2 linked regions of the Homo sapiens genome follow. The gene in region 1 interacts genetically with each later gene. Each region holds a gene or a part of one and is shown in the gene's direction. Other genes may lie near its edges.

What was found. Genes that interact genetically often act in the same process or in processes that back each other up.
Region 2: of RHOG (region 1) and ATG7, changing one enhances a phenotype caused by changing the other (phenotypic enhancement), as found in Homo sapiens cells (one large-scale study listed by BioGRID).

What each region holds. Positions count from the first base shown.
Region 1 is NC_000011.10:3,830,960-3,834,459, reverse strand, and holds part of RHOG (rho-related GTP-binding protein RhoG), read left to right. Parts: intron 1-3,500.
Region 2 is NC_000003.12:11,359,397-11,362,896, forward strand, and holds part of ATG7 (ubiquitin-like modifier-activating enzyme ATG7), read left to right. Parts: intron 1-1,184; coding exon 1,185-1,388; intron 1,389-3,416; coding exon 3,417-3,500. UniProt on the Homo sapiens protein: E1-like activating enzyme involved in the 2 ubiquitin-like systems required for cytoplasm to vacuole transport (Cvt) and autophagy.

The sequences.
Region 1 (3,500 bases):
TACTGGGCTTCAGAGAAGTCTCTCCATATCTCAGTGATGAGGGCTGGTACAAGCAGATCAAAAGGCAATGGTTGTACAGTCCTGTGTGCCTAGCCCTATACTTAGAGGTTTTTTTTTGTCATTTAGTCCAGAGAAGCCAAGGCTTCAGTACTGAAGGGCATGTACAGCTGGGAAACTTACGTATGACTGTTGGAAAAGGAGAATCACACAGAGCCAAAGCAGGGTTAAAAGGGGTGGCCATGGGTGCAGTGGCTTACTCCTGTAATCCCAGCACTTTCAGAGGCCAAGGCAGGTGGATCACTTGAGGCCAGGTGTTCAAGACCAGCCTGGCCAACATGATGAAATCCTGTCTCTACTAAAAATACAAAAATTAGCTGGGCATGATGGCACATGCATGTAATCCCAATAACTCAGGAGGCTGAGGCAGGAGAATCACTTGAACCCGGGAGGTGGAGATTGCAGTGAGCTGAGATCGCGACACTGCACTCTAACCTGGGCGACAGGTAGCCATGCAATGGATATCCAAAGAAGAATTCAGTAACCTTATGCAACTGTGAGACTTAAGTTAGGCCTTAAGGAGTAAGGAAGATTAGAGAAGGGAGAGGGAATGGCAGCAGAGGGAAAAACAAAGAGTAAAAGTTCAGAGGCAAGAATGATCCTGGCTTGTTTGCAGAGGACATTGAAAATCCCTCTGGAACAGGGAGCTGGGAACTCACACTTGCAAAGTACCTACATTGTGCACATATTATACATTAATGCACTTAGTCCTTATAACAGTGCTATGTGGTAGGTACTGTACGTTGCCACTGCATTTGAAAGATAAGGAAATTGAAGCTTAGAGAGGCAAATCATCAGAAGCTCAGGGTCACACAGCTGGTAAGAGGCAGAACTAGGATTCAAACCCAAGTCTACGTAACTCTAATATCCCTTATCAAATTGTGAAGAACTCTGAATGCCAGTATGAGGGACCAGGCATGATCTGAATTGGGACTAAAAAGCCAGAATAAGTCATTGTAATTTGTCTAATAACATACAGATCTGGCCAGGCATGGTGGCCCACGCCCATAATCCCAGCACTTTGGGAGGGCTAGTCAGGAGGATCACTTGAGACCAGGAGTTCAAGACCAGCCTGGGCAACATGGCAAGACCCTGTCTCTACAAACAAACAAAAAGATGCATTAAAAATACAAAAATTAGCCAGGTGTGGTGGTGCCTGCCTGTAGTCCCAGCTACTCAGGAGGCTGAGGTAGGATGCCTTGAGCCTGGGAGGTTGAGACTACAGTGAGCTGTGATGGCACCACTGCATTTCAGCCTGGGCAACAGAACAAGACCTTGCTCCAAAAGAAAAAACAAAACAAAACAGATTGGCAACCATTGATTTACTAAATAACTTTTTTTTTTTTTGAGACATGGGGTCTTGCTGTGTTGCTCAGGCTGGAGTGCAGTGGCTACTCACAGGGACGATAACCTTGACTAGTGTACACACTACAACCCTTCACTCCTGGGCCCAGCCTCCCTAGTAGCTGGGACTGCAGGTGCACCACTGAGCTGGGCTTAATGATTCTTTTGAAAAAGCCACTTAGTGAATAAGTCATTGTTGAACCCCGCTCCAGATAGGTCACACTCCTGGTTTGGTGTCCTGCAGCACTGACATCCCTTCTTCCTGTTTGGCACAGTTTAGACTCTATATGCCCTCCTGAAATGGGCTATGGTAACTTATTCAACCCAGTTCAGGCCAGAGGATTTCAGAAAGAAGAGTTGTTTTGGGAGAGAGGATAAAGGTCTGAACTAGACCTGAGTAGGGAGGACTGGGCTGATCCCCTACCACAGATACAGGCATACTCAGTGCTTCCTGCCTTCTGGGATGAAAGGCTTTGCTCCTGTCACCTCCTGTGTGTACAGCACTTCAGTTTACAAAGTGTATTCATTCCCATGGTCAGGTTCCTTGATGCTGCCCTTGAGGCTGGGAGGGGTACTATTATTACTTCTACTGTACAGATAAAGAAACAGAGGCTCCAGGAAGGGCAGTAACTTACCTGATCAAGGTCACACAGTTAGCTGGTAAGGGGTAACTTGAAGACTGTATGATGCACCAAGGAAAACACAGGACTTTGGGTCACAAAACTGGGTTTGTGTTCTGGCTCCCACACTAACTAGCTGTGTGATGTTGAGTTACTTTTACTGTTCTGAATTTGTTTCCTCATCTGTAGAATAGGCATAGTACTAACAGGTTGTTATAAAGGTCAAATGACATAATAACATGTGACCTATAAAGGCTTATACCATATGAGGGCTTTTTTATCAAGGGTCAAGGTCGGCAGATAAACTCAAGACATCAGAGTCAGGTATCCAGTACTCTTGGCCCTATACCACACTGCCTTTGCTCTGCTTGTTTCTGGACACTACCATACTCATCATCCTTTTCCAGTGTCGGTCCTCGTTCCCTTCCCAGCCCGGAAGCTACGCTGTCCTTCCCCTCTCCTTTGAGAGCTGATTTACTGATTGCTAGTTGATAACCACCTCTTTAGAGAGCTGTACTTCCAGTCTCTTGGGCCTTGTGACAGCCAGCCGGAGTTCCCTCCTTGCCTTCCTGCCTGGGCCAGCCCAGTGCTGGGCTTTTCAGTCATACTGTCAACACCCACTCTCCTGCTCTGTGTGGAACTGAAGATTACAGGCCCAGGAGTTCTGCTTTGAATGTCAAGGCTTCCCACGTAATCCGCTGGGCACAAATAATGCCCCCTGCCTCCAAGGAGCTTTAAGTCTTAGTTCATCCACCTAGTGCTCTTGTAACAACCATTTTAATCTCTAATTCCTGGATAGGAAAACTGAGGCCCAGCAAGCGTAAATGCCTCATGCTTGGTTATAGTGAGTCAGCAGAGCTGGGGTTAGAACTTAGGTCTCTCAACTTCCAGTCTGAGGTCTCTATTTGACTCTCCACTGGCCTAGAGGGTCCTTATGCCCTTCCCTGACCCACTGTCTGAGGGTCTCTATCTGAATGTCCTGACGTTGCATGCACACGTGCACGCGCACAAACACACACACACACTCTCTCTCATTCATGCAAATAGGATGGAAATATTTTTTAATGTGAACCAGAGACACAACTTCATAGAGTGAAACCATTCCTCTCCCAGCTGATTCCAAGGCAAACTGTAGCCTGGGAGGGAGGTGGGACCAAGCCCTGGGTCCTTTGCAGCCCCCACATGACGAAAGTTTCTTTTCCACTTCCCAGTGGGGATTTTCTTCCCCACTTGTCATTGATTTTTGAAGCTTCTGAACCAGTGGTGAGAGCCCAGGCTGGGGGGGTAAGGGGTTCCCAGACCAGGGTGCAGCCTTGCAGTATAGCAAGTGAAATGGAGAAAATGGGCTAGTGTTGATGGTGCTTGGGTGGAGCCAGGGATAAGGAATACTCAGGGATTTGGTTGTGTTTAAAACAGGGCTGCCCCCTCTCAGGGAGCAGGCCCTGGTTGTGGGAGACAGTCAGGGAAAGGAAGTCACAT
Region 2 (3,500 bases), on another chromosome or scaffold:
AAAAAACGGTTTCTTAAAAATTTATGTGTTGGGCTGGACATGGTGGCTCACATCTGTATCCTAGCACTTTGGGAGGATTGCTTGACCCAGGAGTTTGAGACTAGCCTGGGCAACATGGTGAGACTCTCTCTCTAGAAGAAAAACAAAAAATTAGCTAGGTGTGGTGATGCACACCCGTGCTCCCAGCTACTCAGGAGGGTGAGGCAGGAAGATCACTTGAGCCTGGGAGGTTGAGGCTGCAGTGAACCGAGATCACGCCATTGCATTCCAGCCTGGGCAACGGAGTGAGATCCTGTCTCAAAAAAACCCCAAAGAAACAAAAAAACAAAAAAAAACCAACTATGCGGAGCCAGGCATGGTGGCATGTGCCTGTAATTCCAGCTACTGGGATACCAAAAAAATTCTATGTGAAGGGTGAATTATATGGTATGTGAGTTATATCTCAATAAAGCTGTTATAAAAACAAATCTATGTGAACATGACAGTATAGCATAATGGTGGAAAGAATGTGTTTGAGAACTATGTAGACTTGGTTTTATATACCTACCTCTTGCCAGATAAGTGACCTTGGGCAAGTTATAGAACTAACTTCTCTGACTTTCAGTATCCTCATCTATAAATAAGAAATGTTTGTTATGAGTTTTTTTGTTTGCTTTTTTCTTTTTCAGAGATAGAATCTTGCTCTGTCACCCAGGCTGGAGTGCAGTGGCGGAATCTCGGCTCACTGCAAACTCCATCTCCCAGGTTCAAGCATTTCTCATGCCTCTGCCTCCTGAGTAGCTGCGACTACTGGCGCAAGCCATCATGCTCGGCTAATTTTTTGTATTTTTAATAGAGACAGGGTTTCGTCATGTTGCCAGGCTGGTCTCGAACTCCTGACCTCAGACAGTCTGCCCGCCTTGGCCTCCCAAAGTGCTGGGATTACAGGTTATGAGCCACTATACCTGGTCTGTTATGAGTTTCAAATGAAATTAAATGAGATAATTTATGTTCATCACTTATCAAGTCTTTTGTAATTAATAAGCCCTCAGTAGTGGGTAGATTTTATCATCATTAGCTTTTATAATCTAATTACACTTACATGCAAAAAATAAATTTTAAAAAGTTGAGCAAATATGGAATTAGCCACAGCTTGAAATATATGTGTCTTTTAACTCTGCTCTTTCATTCCTTGAAACCTGCAGCTGGTCATCAATGCTGCTTTGGGATTTGACACATTTGTTGTCATGAGACATGGTCTGAAGAAACCAAAGCAGCAAGGAGCTGGGGACTTGTGTCCAAACCACCCTGTGGCATCTGCTGACCTCCTGGGCTCATCGCTTTTTGCCAACATCCCTGGTTACAAGCTTGGCTGCTACTTCTGCAATGATGTGGTGGCCCCAGGAGATGTAAGTGGATTTCTCTATAGTTCCAAATATTTCCTATCACCAACTTGTACACTGAGGCAGACCGACTTGGCCCTTTCATTTATGACTATTTAAATATTATCTTTTAACAAAGAGAAGAATTCTCCAATTTGGGGAGGATGGCATTATCTCATTATGAACCTTGACTGGCGTCATCAACTGTACACCTGTTCCTTGTTCACCAATATAAACGCGGCTACAAACCATATTTTTGGAAAGCTTATTGAGGAAACCACAGCAGACTAGTCCCTGATAGCACTCCGTATTGTCTCCGGTGCTTCTCTTAGTCAAGATAACATTACAAATCAGGAGTCTAAAGACCAGATTCCATCAATGGCTTGACACTGCCTCCCAGGTAGTTCTAAAAAGTCTCTTAGGTTCCCTCTACCTTTGCAAAATAGGAGTGATGTGTAGGCTTGTCAGATTTAGTAAGTAAAAATATAGGATTCCCAGCTAACTTTGAATTTCAGTTAATAATGAATTCTTTTTTTTTTTTTTTTGAGACAGAGTTTCGCCCTGTCACCCAGGCTCGAGTGCAGTGGCACAATCTCGGCTCCCTGCAACCTCTGCCTCCTGGGTTCAAGTGATTCTCCTGCCTCAGCCTCCTGAGTAGCTGAGATTACAGGTGTGTGCCACCATGCCCAGCTAATTTTTGTATTTTTAGTAGAGACGGGGTTTCACCATGTTGGTCTGGCTGGTCTCGAACTCCTGACCTCGTGATCCACCTGCCTCAGTCTCCCAAAGTGCTGGGATTACAGGTGTGAGCCACCACGCTTAGCCAATAATGAATAATTTTTTGGTATATGTCCCATGCAATATTCAAGACCCACTTATACTAAAAATTTATTTATCTGAAATTCAAATTTAACTGAGTGTCTTGTATTCTCCCTAGCAATGCTAATAGAGGAGGGAAGAATACCTGCCCTGTCAACTCACAGTGCAAAGTGGGTCAAGTGCGACAGTGCTTTGAACAGCAAGACTACACTGTACAAATTAAGATTCTATGACTTTCAGAACTCCACACAAGTCAGTCTGTATGTAGGTCTGTTCCTTTATCAGAACAGATAACGATTTCCAGTGAAACAATGCAGAGATGTTTTCTGTAACCTCCCCTCTATTTTTCCTTTGTTTTAAAACTTTTCCCTTAATAACTCATATCTCTTTTGGATGACTGGCTTTTATGCCCTCCCAATATAAAGAAAAGAAGATGACCATTCTCTTTTATGGAGAAAGATGGCTTGATGATCTCTGTTATGGTGTTATAATATATAGCTGGTCTTGTTATTTAGTGATTGTCAACAAATACGATTAGTGGTCCCTTGCAGTAAAGTCCCATCTGCTCATAAGGTAAAATTTTTATAGAGTCAAAAATATCTCTAACAACCTCTTAATTTGCCCAGAGTTGGATGGTTAGACTCTCTTTGGTTGAACCAGCAAAGGCTTGTGCTTAGAGCCATGTTGTAGAAAAAAAAAATACTTGTAGTAAACCCTAGAATCACACAGAGAGGTGATGCCCATGTTGTGAGAGGCACATAGGAACTGAGGGCCGCAGGAATAGTAAATTGTTGCTCCCATCTCACGGTCACTTTGAGGTGTTAGCTCAGTTAAAATGGCAGGGCAGAATCATTTGCACTTTTCAAATCATTGTTCCTTTCTGTGTCTCTGTCACTTAACTACCAAGCACAGTAGAACTGAATTGAGTCACTTAAAGGAACACATGATGCAGTTCCATTATATGAGGCAGCTAAGCCCTCATTTTTGGTTAATATCCCCCAATCTGTTTAGGCTACTGATCCTTTTTAGCATATCACCTCATTTAGTTACCTAAATTGTATATTTTGTTTATCTTGATAATCTCAAGAAATGATGTACTTGAGGCTGGATGTTCTTTGCCAACAATGAGCATCTGGTTATAATTTAAAGCTTTGTCACAGAGGATTTCATACTTGAGACAGCTAGAGTTGAATGGAGTAGAACGTTCTGCACACACCAATGATTGTTTCTTTGCAGTCAACCAGAGACCGGACCTTGGACCAGCAGTGCACTGTGAGTCGTCCAGGACTGGCCGTGATTGCAGGAGCCCTGGCCGTGGAA